Linked DNA regions of Homo sapiens: region 1 is linked to region 2. Evidence: fine-mapped expression QTL. A gene starts in region 2. The other region holds a variant in brackets. All regions are shown on one strand. Distances are between the middles of the regions.

Region 1 (5,377 bases), 73 kb after region 2:
TGCTTTTTTTATTTTTATTTTTAGAGACAGAGTTTCACTCTTGTTGCCCAGGCTGGAGTGCAATGGCATCATCTCAGCTCACTGCAACCTCCACCTTCTGGGTTCAAGCGATTCTCCTGCTTCAGCCTCACAAGTAGCTGGGATTACAGGCGCCTGCCACCACGCCCAGCTAATTTTTTTTTGTATTTTTAGTAAAGACAGGGTTTCGCCAAGTTGGCCAGGCTGGTCTCAAACTCCTGACTTCAGGTGATCCTCCCACCTTGGCCTCCCAAAGTGCTGGGATTACAGGTGTGGCCACTGCGCCCGGTCTGCACCGCCTTTTTTTACCTGTAAGATCACAGGGCCTCTGCGAAGCACTGTATGAGTGATTTTTTGTTTTGTTTTGTTTTGAGACAGGGTCTTGCTCTGTTGCCCAGGTCAGAGTGCAGTGGCACAATCTCAGCTCACTTCAACCTCCACCTCCCAGGTTCAAGCAATCTTCCCACCTCAGCCTCCGAATAGCTGGGACTACAGGCGCCCACAACCACACTCAGCTAATTTTTTTTTTTTTTTTTTTTGAGATGGAGTCTCACTCTGTCGCCCAGGCTGGAGTGCAGAGGCGCGATCTCGGCTCACTGCAAGCTCCGCTTCCCAGGTTCACGCCATTCTCCTGCCTCAGCCTCCTGAGTAGCTGGGACTACAGACGCCCGCCACCATGCCCAGCTAATTTTTTTTTTTTTTTTTGTATTTTCAGTAGAGACGGGGTTTCACCATGTTAGCCAGGATGGTCTCGATCTCCTGACCTTGTAATCCGCCCGCCTCGGCCTCCCAAAGTGCTGGGATTACAGGCGTGAGCCACCACACCTGGCCCCACTCAGCTAATTTTTATATGTTTTTTGTAGAGACAGGGTTTCACAATGTTGCCCAGGCTGGTCTCGAACTCCTAGACTCAAGTGATGTGCCCACCTTGGCCTCCCAAAGTGCTGGGATTACAGGTGTGAGCCACCACACCCAGCCAAGTTCTTTGAAGTGAAAGAGACACTCACACAATTGATGCTCAATCTCTCCTCACTCACCAAAGGAGAGTCTAAAGGGCCTGCCTCCTAGGAATCTTAGTTTGGCAGTGACTTGGCTCAACTTAAGGAACTTTCTAGGTCCAGAACCCTTGCAACTGGACCTGTGCTAGCCTAGAAGTCAGCACCCTCTAACCCTGAGGGCCATCATGGGGTGAAAGTGCCAGCTGTGAGGTCTCACAGAAAAGCCAAAGTGTGACTGTGAGCGCCTAGAGGCAGTGGTCTTAGCTTGCCTCTAGGCACTGGACATTATGAGCAGACATCCATTCCGCGTCAATGCTTGGTCTACCACTACCCTGCTCCCCCTTGCCAATAACTAATTCAAGACTGGGCATGTGACCCAGTTCTAGTCAGTAAGGTATAGGACCAGGAAAATCTACAGTGGCTTCTGGGAAAGGCTTCCTCCATTTTAAGAGGAGCCATGGTAAGACATAGTCTCCCCTCTCTGGAATTGCCATATTCCAGTGTGGACACTTGGGGCTGCTGCCACCATCTTGGCACCAACCTGAGGATGGAACTAACAAGAAGGATGGCAGATCAGAGAAGGCCCGAGCCTGGACGCATCATTGAGGTGATGGATCAAATAGCCCCACTGCCTCAATTCCCCTCTGAATATTCATATAAGGAAAAAAGACTTAGTGGTTCAGTTAGATGCCACCAAAAGCAAAAGCATTGTCACTGAGCCAGCCACCTGGAGGGCTGGAGGTGCATGGAGGGGAGCACCTTAAAGGTACTTTTACCTCCTGCTAAGGAGTTTTGACTTTCTCCTTTGGATGAGAAAAGGGCCAATAGCTGTGAAAAGACATGCCTAAGGCCATGTAGGGGGAAGTGGCAAGAGCAGCCCTGCACAGGCCTATCAGCCTTCCAGCGGGTGCCTGATGCACTACAGCCCTGTGCCCCAGGATCCTGAGTCAGCTTTGATGGTGGGGCCTGTGGGTGGAGGCCTCAAAGTTCACCGACTCCAGTCAACGTTTAGTTCTCCTGCTGAGCAAGAGCAAGCAAGCACTGGGGACTTCCTTGAATTTTTGTGCTGAAATGGTATCCTTGGAGGAAAATATCAAAGTCCCCCGAGCTGTAATCAAGGCAGTTGCAGATTACAAGTAATTGCCATAGTTTCGGGACAGGTTTTTCTTGGATTTAAAAGAGCCTGTCCAAAGTTCCTTCCCGGGCCAACAGAACAGAACAGGGCAGGCACCTGAGACAGAGGGGAGCAGAACCCTGGGATCCAAGGCTTGTGTTTGCTCTCCACGCCAGAGCAGGAAGCCCCCTCTGTACCCTGGCCTCCTTCCTCCACGCTTGGAGCATGTGTAGGCCACGTGGCCAT[G/C]TCTCTGTAGTAGGAGTCGGGAATGGGCTCCGGGACATTTATTGCCTCAATTCCAAGACTGCCTGGAAAAGGGCGGTACTGCCTTGGGCAGTAGAGAGTTCCTATCGCTAGAGATACAAACCCCAGAAGGGCCTTCAGCAGGCATCTGATGCCTTCATACATGCTGTCGCCTCGCCCACCAGGAAGACCCTCCTGAACCTCAAAGATGTGACACATGCATTCATTCATTTCACAAAGAACTACTTGTGCCAGGTGCTGCTCTAGGTAAGGGGGATTTAGCAATGAATAAAACAAAGTGCCTCTGGGTGTGGCGGCTCACGCCTGTAATCCCAGCACTTTGGCCAAGGTTGGCAGATCACCTGAGGTCAGGAGTTCGAGACCAGCCTGGCCAACATGGGGAAACCCCATCTCTACTAAAAATACGAAAATTAGCCAGGTATGGTGGTGCATGCCTGTAATCCCAGCTACACAGGAGGCCGAGGCACAAGAATTGCTTGAACCCAGGAGGAGGGGGTTGCAGTGAGCTGAGATTATGCCACTGCACTCCAACCTGGGTGACAGATCCAGACTCCGTCTCAAAAAAAAAAAAAAAAAAATTCCCGAAGAGTGTAGAGAAAAAAAACAGATAAAATGAATATACAATGTGATATCAGGTGGTTGTTAAGTGCTATAACAGAAAGGGGACAGAGAGTGACAGGGTGAGTTTTAGAAAGGGTGGTCGGGGAAGGCTTCCCTGGAAGAGGTGTAACTAATGTTTGAACTGATAAACTTTAATGAAGGCAGGAGCCGGCCATGCAAACATCTGGAGAAGCAGCGTCTAGGCAGAGGGAAGAGGAAGCAAGGTCTTCAGCCAGGTTTGAAGACTAGCAAGAGGCTGGTGTAGACTGGGCATGGTGGCTCACACCTGAAATCCTAGCACTTTGGGAGGCCAAGGTGGGCAAATTGCCTGAGCCCAGGAGTTCAAGACCAACCTGGACAACATGGTGAAACCCCATCTCTACAAAAAATACAAAAATTGGTTGGGCATGGTGGCACACACCTGTAGTTCCAGCTACTCAGGAGGCTGAGGTGGGAGGATCACCTGAGCCCTGGGAGGTTGAGGCTGCAGTGAACCTTGATCGTGCCACTGCACTCCAGCTTGGGCAACAGAGTGAGACTCCATCTCAAAAAAAAAAATGGCTGCTGGAGCTCGAAAGTGGTCTGGCGGCGGAGAAGCATAGGAGATGAAGTTGGATTGGTGACTGGAAGTCAGATCAGGAGGGTCTTGCAGGCCAGGCAGAGCATGTTGGCTTTTCCTCTGTATATTGCAGCCATTGGGTTTGGAGCAGAAGGGCATGGTCTGACTCAGGCTTAGACAGCCACACTCTGCCTGCTGCACCCATATAAAGCCCTGGCACATGGTAGGTGGTTAATAAACTTTGGTGATTATTATCAATGTTCTTCAGCTGCACCATTGGACCCCGGAGCTCACTGAGGGCAGGGACCAGAATGGTCATCCATGCCTATTATAGCTGGTGCTAAGATGTGTGGATATATCAGTGACTCAGGGCATGAATGAGTGAGCAAGCTTGGAGTGGGTTCTGAGGAGGAGACTCATGCCCCCAGGGCAGGTGGGACATGCCGTTGGTGCCATGTAAAGGAAGCAAGCCACTGGCTATGCCACAGAGAGAACAGGTAGGCAGGTAAGTGCCCATTTTAGAAAAGAACCATTGCCTGGGCCCTAGGGGAATGCAGGATGCAGCTGGGCCCAAGTATGGCTGCAGGAGCCAACGCAGCCTGCAAACCAGCAGGCAAGAGTCAGGCAAACCACATGGGGCACCACCTCCTAGAATCACCAGGATGCTTACAGGCTCACCCTGATCCCCCCGGGAACATTAGAGGCAGTCATCTGGCACAAAACAGCACCCAGAGGGTGCAGCCTAGACAGGCACTGGTGCCCAGATTCTGGTTTTAGGCTGTACATGGGAGGTGGCAGACACTGTTGTGGGCTGGGGAAATCATGGAGGGCTTCCTAGAAGAGCTATAGCCTAGATGGACAGATAAGGTTCAAACTGAAGACACTAGGGGTCTATAACTGCAGACACTCCTCCAGACATGCCCTGTGAGATCACTCCACCTCTGAACCATGCCTGATACCCCTCCTCACTATCCACAGGATAATGCCTTGGCTTGGCATTCAAGAGTTCCTATCTTCAGAAAGTGGCCTCTTCAGGTATTGCTCTTGAAAAAAAAAATAATAAAAGATAAGTAAAAGAAAAAAGTGGCCTCAATCTACCCATTCAGCTTTGCCTCTCCCAAGCAGCCAAACCCACAGCACATGCTATACGTTAACCACGCCGCACATTTTCCCATCCAGTGCCTTCGCTCATGTTGTTCGCTCTGCCAGGAATTCCCTTCTCTGGCTCCACTTTCCAAACTACTGCCTATTCTTTAACACCCAGCTCGTGACCCAACTTCAGAGAAGTCTCCGCCCTCTGGTCCCACATCATCACATACCTGGTGAACTATAAGCCACGTTGAACACAGTTGGGTTTTGTCTCCTTGGATGACCGTTGGATACCAGTTACACCTCTTGCCCCGGTGTAATTATTAGTCGTGACCCTTTCATTCCCAGATATGTTCCAGCTGGATGGCAAATTAAACAGTCACCCTTCATCACCCACACCGTTCTCCACCCAACTCAAATCCTTTGGGCAGGAACTATGCCTTTGTCAGAGCCCAGCACAGTACTCTGTATGCTGGAATAAAGTCAGTCACTCATACCAGTAATCTTTGAGACACTGGACACTAAACTATGGGGAAGCAAAGCAGCAGAAACATGTGTCCCTGTTCTCCTGCCACATGTGAAAGGAGGTGGAAGAAGGTAAGAAAAGATCATTTCAGAGAGGCCACGTGCAGTGGCTCACGCCTGTAATACCAGCACTTTGGGAGGTGGAGGCAGGTGGATCACTTGAGGTCAGGAGTTTGAGACCAGCCTGGCCAACGTGGTGAAACCCTGTTT
Region 2 (5,377 bases):
TTCTGGAGACGGATGACGGTAATGATTGACAACTTTGTGAATGTAGTTGATTTCACTGATTTGTGCACTTAAAAATGATTAAAATAGTCAATATTTAGTTATGCATATTTTACAACAATGAAAAATATTTAGGCCGGGTCCAGTGGCTCACACCTGTAATCCCAGCCCTTTGGGAGGCCAAGGCAGGCAGATCACTCGAGGTCAGGAGTTCTAGACCAACCTGGCCAACATGGCGAAACCCCATCTCTACTAAAAATACAAAAACTCAGCCGGGCTTGGTGGCATGCACCTGTAATCCCAGCTACTCAGGAGGCTGAGGCAAGATAATTGTTCGAATCCGGGAGTCAGAGGTTACAGTGAACTGAGATTGCGCCACTGCACTCCAGCCTCGGCAACAGAGTGAGACTCCATCTCAAAAAAAATTTTTTTCAGAAAAAAAAGAGAAACTTGCCCATGTTATGGAGCTAATGAGTGGTGGAAATGCGTTCTGAACCCAGGCAGTCTAGTTCTAGGATTCTGGCATATGTCACCAAAAGAGATTGGGATATGAAAGGCCTTTAGGGAAAAATACAAAGCATGAGAAAAAAAATGGAAATACTAAAAAATAATAGGCCATTTATGGAGCTTTGCTCCTTATCAGTTATCTTTCTTCAGGCAGCTAGAAATGGTGGGAAACACTCAGGATCGAAGCTCTAGGAAAACTGGTTCCAAGTCTGGAAACTATGAGACTGCAGCAAATTCCCCCTAGTCTCTCAAGCTTCCTCCTCCTTGGGGTTAATAGCCAATCTGCCAATCTTCAGGATGGTTGTGCAGGTCACAAGAGTTAATGGGTGTGTGTTTCAATGATCTATTACTGAAATGATCTATAATAAACCACCCCACTCTAAAGCTGGGCTTAGCTGGGCAGTTCTTTTGGTCCACATGGTGTTCATGAGGTTATTCATGTAGCTGCATTCAGCTAGTAGCTCAGTGGGGGTTGGAATGTCCAAGATGACTTCAGTTACATATTATAGTGCTTAGCTGTAGTTTCTAGAATGTCTTGAGGAGTTGGCTGGGCCTCCCTCTCTCTCCAGGTGCCTTTCCAGCAGAGTAGCTACACTTCTTTATAACCAAGAAGGTAGAATCAGACGTTTTCAATCCTCTTAAGGCCTAGGCTCAGTACTGGCAGAATCACTTGTAGCACATCCTATTGGTCAAAGCAACCAACATGACCAGCCAGATTCAACAGGAGGTAAAACAGAGTCTATCTCTTGAGGAGAGAAACCGTATGCTCATCATGCAAGGACGGACAGAACTACGTGGCAGCCATCTTTGCAGAAAATCCACCACAGTGGTGCCCATAGGTGGGGATCAGAGTTCAACTGTCCCTTGCCCCCTAGAATTAGATAAAAAGAGTCTAATGAACTGTTAGCATAATGCTAAGTGCTGCAGCACACAAAATGCTCGGCAAGTGCTGATGATTATTATTAATCATTATTATTCTTTTAATAGCTTTTTTAAAACAGTCTAAGATAGCACTGGTACTGTATTCAGTTTAAAGTGATATACATGGGTCAAATGAACTTTGAGTTCTTTCCCAACCTTAATACCATGATTCTTTGAGTCTCTTTTTCACAGATTTGGAAACTGAGGCTTAGGAAGATTGCGTGACTTGTCTGGAGTCACACACTAAGCTAGTGCATGACGTCCACATTCAGAGATATCTCCCTCCACTGAATATGCTGGTTTTCACTCGTTCATTTAAAAAATAATGTATTGGGCATCTACCACAAGCCCAAAGGAGTATACATAAACATATACTGACAATTATTTATTGAATACATCCTATGTAATACTGTGTCACTGAATCCTCATCACAAGCCTATGATGAACCAACCCCCTTCCCATTTCACAGATGGGAATGAGGAAGAGCAAGGTAAAAAACGAACAAACAAAAAAACAGGGTCCACCCTCATGGGGATTACAGTCTACTAAAGAGGATATAGGATAGTCAAACAAATACTTAAAATCAAACAAATACTTAAATATATAATTACAAATTATTCTTGGAGTCGTACTGCTCTTGGAGCCCCAGTGCCCACCCTTTCCCTCAAATCAAGGTCTCAGGTAACCCTGGCAATGGGTCTTCCTGCCAGTAGTAAAGATGGCGCTGAGAGCACGAGCGCACTTTCGCACACCCCCATTACCCACAATGCAGCGGGAATAAGGGAGGCTCAGTTTCTGCCAGGAGCTAATATGGCTTCCTTAGTTACACCGTTCTCTCTCTTCACCTAATCAGCGACCTTACTTTCCCAGACCAGACTGTCGAGCAGGAGCTAAGACTCCTTTTCCCCTCTGCTGACCGCCACTACAGGAGCGGTTGAAGCCAGACGACCACCTTGTGGAGTTAAACTCCGTAACCAGGGAGCACCACTTCCGCTGACGTCATTACGGCGACACGTGGATCCAAGATGGCGACGGCGATGGTGAGTGAAGGAGACTCCGGGAGCGGGAGCTGGAGCGGGGCCCTCCGGGGTATCCCAGGATCTTCCAGCACCCCATGCCTGGCCCTGAGCCACCTCCGGGACCCCTGACTCAGGCCTGAGGGCTACCTCTGACTGGGCTTGTCTTCCCCGAAATCCACCTCCCTGGCCCTGCCCCTGCACTCAGGCTTGTGAAGGCCCCGAGTTTTGGGGGAGGCGCCGTTTCGGAGGAAGACCTCGGCTGCTGCCTTCGCCGGTTCCCATTCTACTTTTGGTCTCCGCCCACTGTGAGCCCCATTTTCCATTTCTCACCTCCCTGTCCTGACCCCTCTGAAGACCCCCTCCCGTTATTCTCATCCTTGCTCCTCCCCGTCACGTCCAGACCCTGCTCTCCCCGCCTCCCCACCATCATAACCAGTCCGCAGATGTGACCTCTCCTCTGACCACCCTCCCAGCCCAAGCGCTGCCTCAGATCCTTTTCAGAGCCCTGTCCTCACTTACACTCATAGCTGTCCCCATCGCGCACCCCCTTGACTGCCGCTACCCCAGAGCTTGCCTTCACCTACCCCACCCCCATCTTTCATCCCTAGAGGCTTCCCTGCCCTTCCTGTCTTCTCTCAGTCAACTCCCTGCCCCTCTCTTAGGGACCTTTTACCCTGTTGGTTCTCAAACTTTACTGTGCATAAGAATCTCGAGGTGTGTAGGGGGAGGCATGCTAAAAATGCAGTTTCCTGAGCAGCCCCACTCCCAGAGATTCTAATTCCATAGGGCTAGGTGATGCCCAGGAATCTGCCCTTTTATAAGCACTCTAGTGATTATATAGTGGAGGTGGTCTGTGAACTACGTTTTGAAAAACACTAATAGCCCCACCTCACTGCTCTCCTTCCCATTCCCCAACATGGCCACACAGCTCGTTAGGGATGAAGGCTCTTTATTATGAAGCTATATGTTGGGATGAAGTCTGTGTGTGGATGAGGGTGGAGGTAAAATAGCCATGCTTGGAAGTTGGGTCAGAGCTTGCGGGCTCCTGGTGCAGAACCTTGGAAGTAAATCTTTGAAGGACTGGCCCTTTTTCTAAAAGTTTAGTTCAAATTCTGCTTGTCAAGAGACCAGAACTAAAATTGAAGTCACTTAGTCCAGAATGATTTCCTGGGTCTTCCTGCATACTGCCTCCTCAGCAGATAATTTCGTCCGGGGAGTGAATGACAAGGAAGACTCAGAGAAAAGGAAATGACATTTGACTTTAGCAAAGGAAGATTCTGGCTTAAATAATTTGGTGTTGGTTTTCTCCAAACAGGGATATATTATTGACTGGTAGCAATTTTCCCTCCTTCTCTTAGCTGACTGAGAACTTACCTTTGTTTAATGAGGGATTCCTTATTTAGAACTTCAGAGGTCAGGTAAAAAGATTTCATGGCCTTACCTGGTTTCTGTGGTTTCAGACTTCAGGCTGAACCACGAGTGGGGCAAATCCTCAAAGTAGTATGTTGAAACCTACATATATGTATATATATTCTGGTACCACATTCAGAACAGAGATAGTGTAAGAACTTAAAAGGAAATCACACCCTCTCTTGCTATAAGGAAAACATTGAGTAAAGTGGTATTTACGGCACTGCACTGGGAAATCCCTGCCTTGTTCAGAGATTTTTAAGAGGTTATAAGCTAGCAATACATATATGTGGTACACATCTATTTAGTCAACAAATATTTGAGTACCAATTCTGTTCCAGGAACTAGGGATGTAGTTGTGAATTACAGGGTCAAGGTCCCTACACTTGTGGAGCCTTTCTGGTTTGAGGAGACAGGCAGTGAACAAGTAAATACGTGAACAAAATAATGTCACCAGTAGATGCTGTGAGGACAGCAAAATGAAGTGATAGTGATTAGGGGTGACTGGGTGACACAACTACTTTGGATTGAGTGGTCAGAAAGAAGTCTTCTCAGAGGAGGTGACTTGAGTTAAAACATAATTAACAAGAAGGAACCAGCCATGCAAAGAATGTTCCAAGCAAAGGAAATGGCAAGTGTAAGGGGCCGATGTGGAAGGGAGCTTGGTGTTTTTGAGGAACACACAGAAGGCTGGAGGGGCCGAAGCATGATGAGGGTTGGGGTAGGAGAGAATGATACAAGATGAAACTGGAGGGAAGCAAGAGCAACTGTTTTGAGAAGCATGCCTGGAAATGGGAAGGACTGCGGTCTACATTTTGTTGTCTGTGGATTGCATTTTGAAATAGTGTTGTATTAGGCTGCTTCCCCTTCCCATCCCCTTCAGGACAGTACTTGAAGGGAGCCAGCTTGTTCTCAGTTGGCACAGAGGCTGTGGAAAGGAGTTTGGATTTTAGTCTAAGCACAGTGGAAGGGACAGTGATTTTTGCCCAGCACAGTGACTCACACCTGTAATCCCAGCACTCTGGGAGACCAAAGCTGGGAGATCGCTTGAGCTCAGGAGTTTGAGACCAGCTTGGACAACATGGCAAACCCCTCTACAAAAAAAATACAAAAAGAAAAAATTAGCTGGGCTTGGTGGTGTGCACCTGTAGTACCAGCTACTTGCGGGGCTGAGGTGGGAGGATCACTTGAACCTCAGTGAGCCCTGATCACTGCACTGCACTCCAGCTTTGGCAACAGAGCGAGACCCTGTCTTAAGAAACAACAACAGGCCGGGAGCAGTGGCTCATGCCTGTAATCTCAGAATTTTGGGAGGCTGAAGCAGGCAAATCACTTGAGGCCAGGAGTTCAACACCAGCCTGGCCAACATGGCGAAACCCTGTCTTCTAAAAATACAAAAATTAGCAGGGTGTGGTGGCACACACCTGTAATCCCAGCTACTCGGGAGGCTGAGGCACAAGAATCGCTTGAACCCGGGAGGCGGAGGCTACAGTGAGCCAAGATCGTGTCACTGCACTGCAGCC

What was found.
Region 1: its variant is fine-mapped to the expression of TM9SF4 in whole blood (TOPMed, PIP above 0.99).

Annotation. Positions count from the first base shown.
Region 1 is chr20:32,180,196-32,185,572 of GRCh38, forward strand. No RefSeq gene overlaps it. Among named protein-coding and RNA genes, the nearest start is that of PLAGL2, 25 kb to the right of the region's middle. RefSeq lists a silencer at 261-441 and an enhancer at 1,862-2,362. The variant G/C (reference allele first, on the strand shown) is at 2,377.
Region 2 is chr20:32,107,291-32,112,667 of GRCh38, forward strand. TM9SF4 (transmembrane 9 superfamily member 4) reads left to right here and starts at 2,424. Exons shown (of 18, transcript NM_014742.4): 1 at 2,424-2,465. The coding sequence starts at 2,451. RefSeq lists enhancers at 1,741-2,940, 1,943-2,687, 2,345-2,524, 2,688-3,430.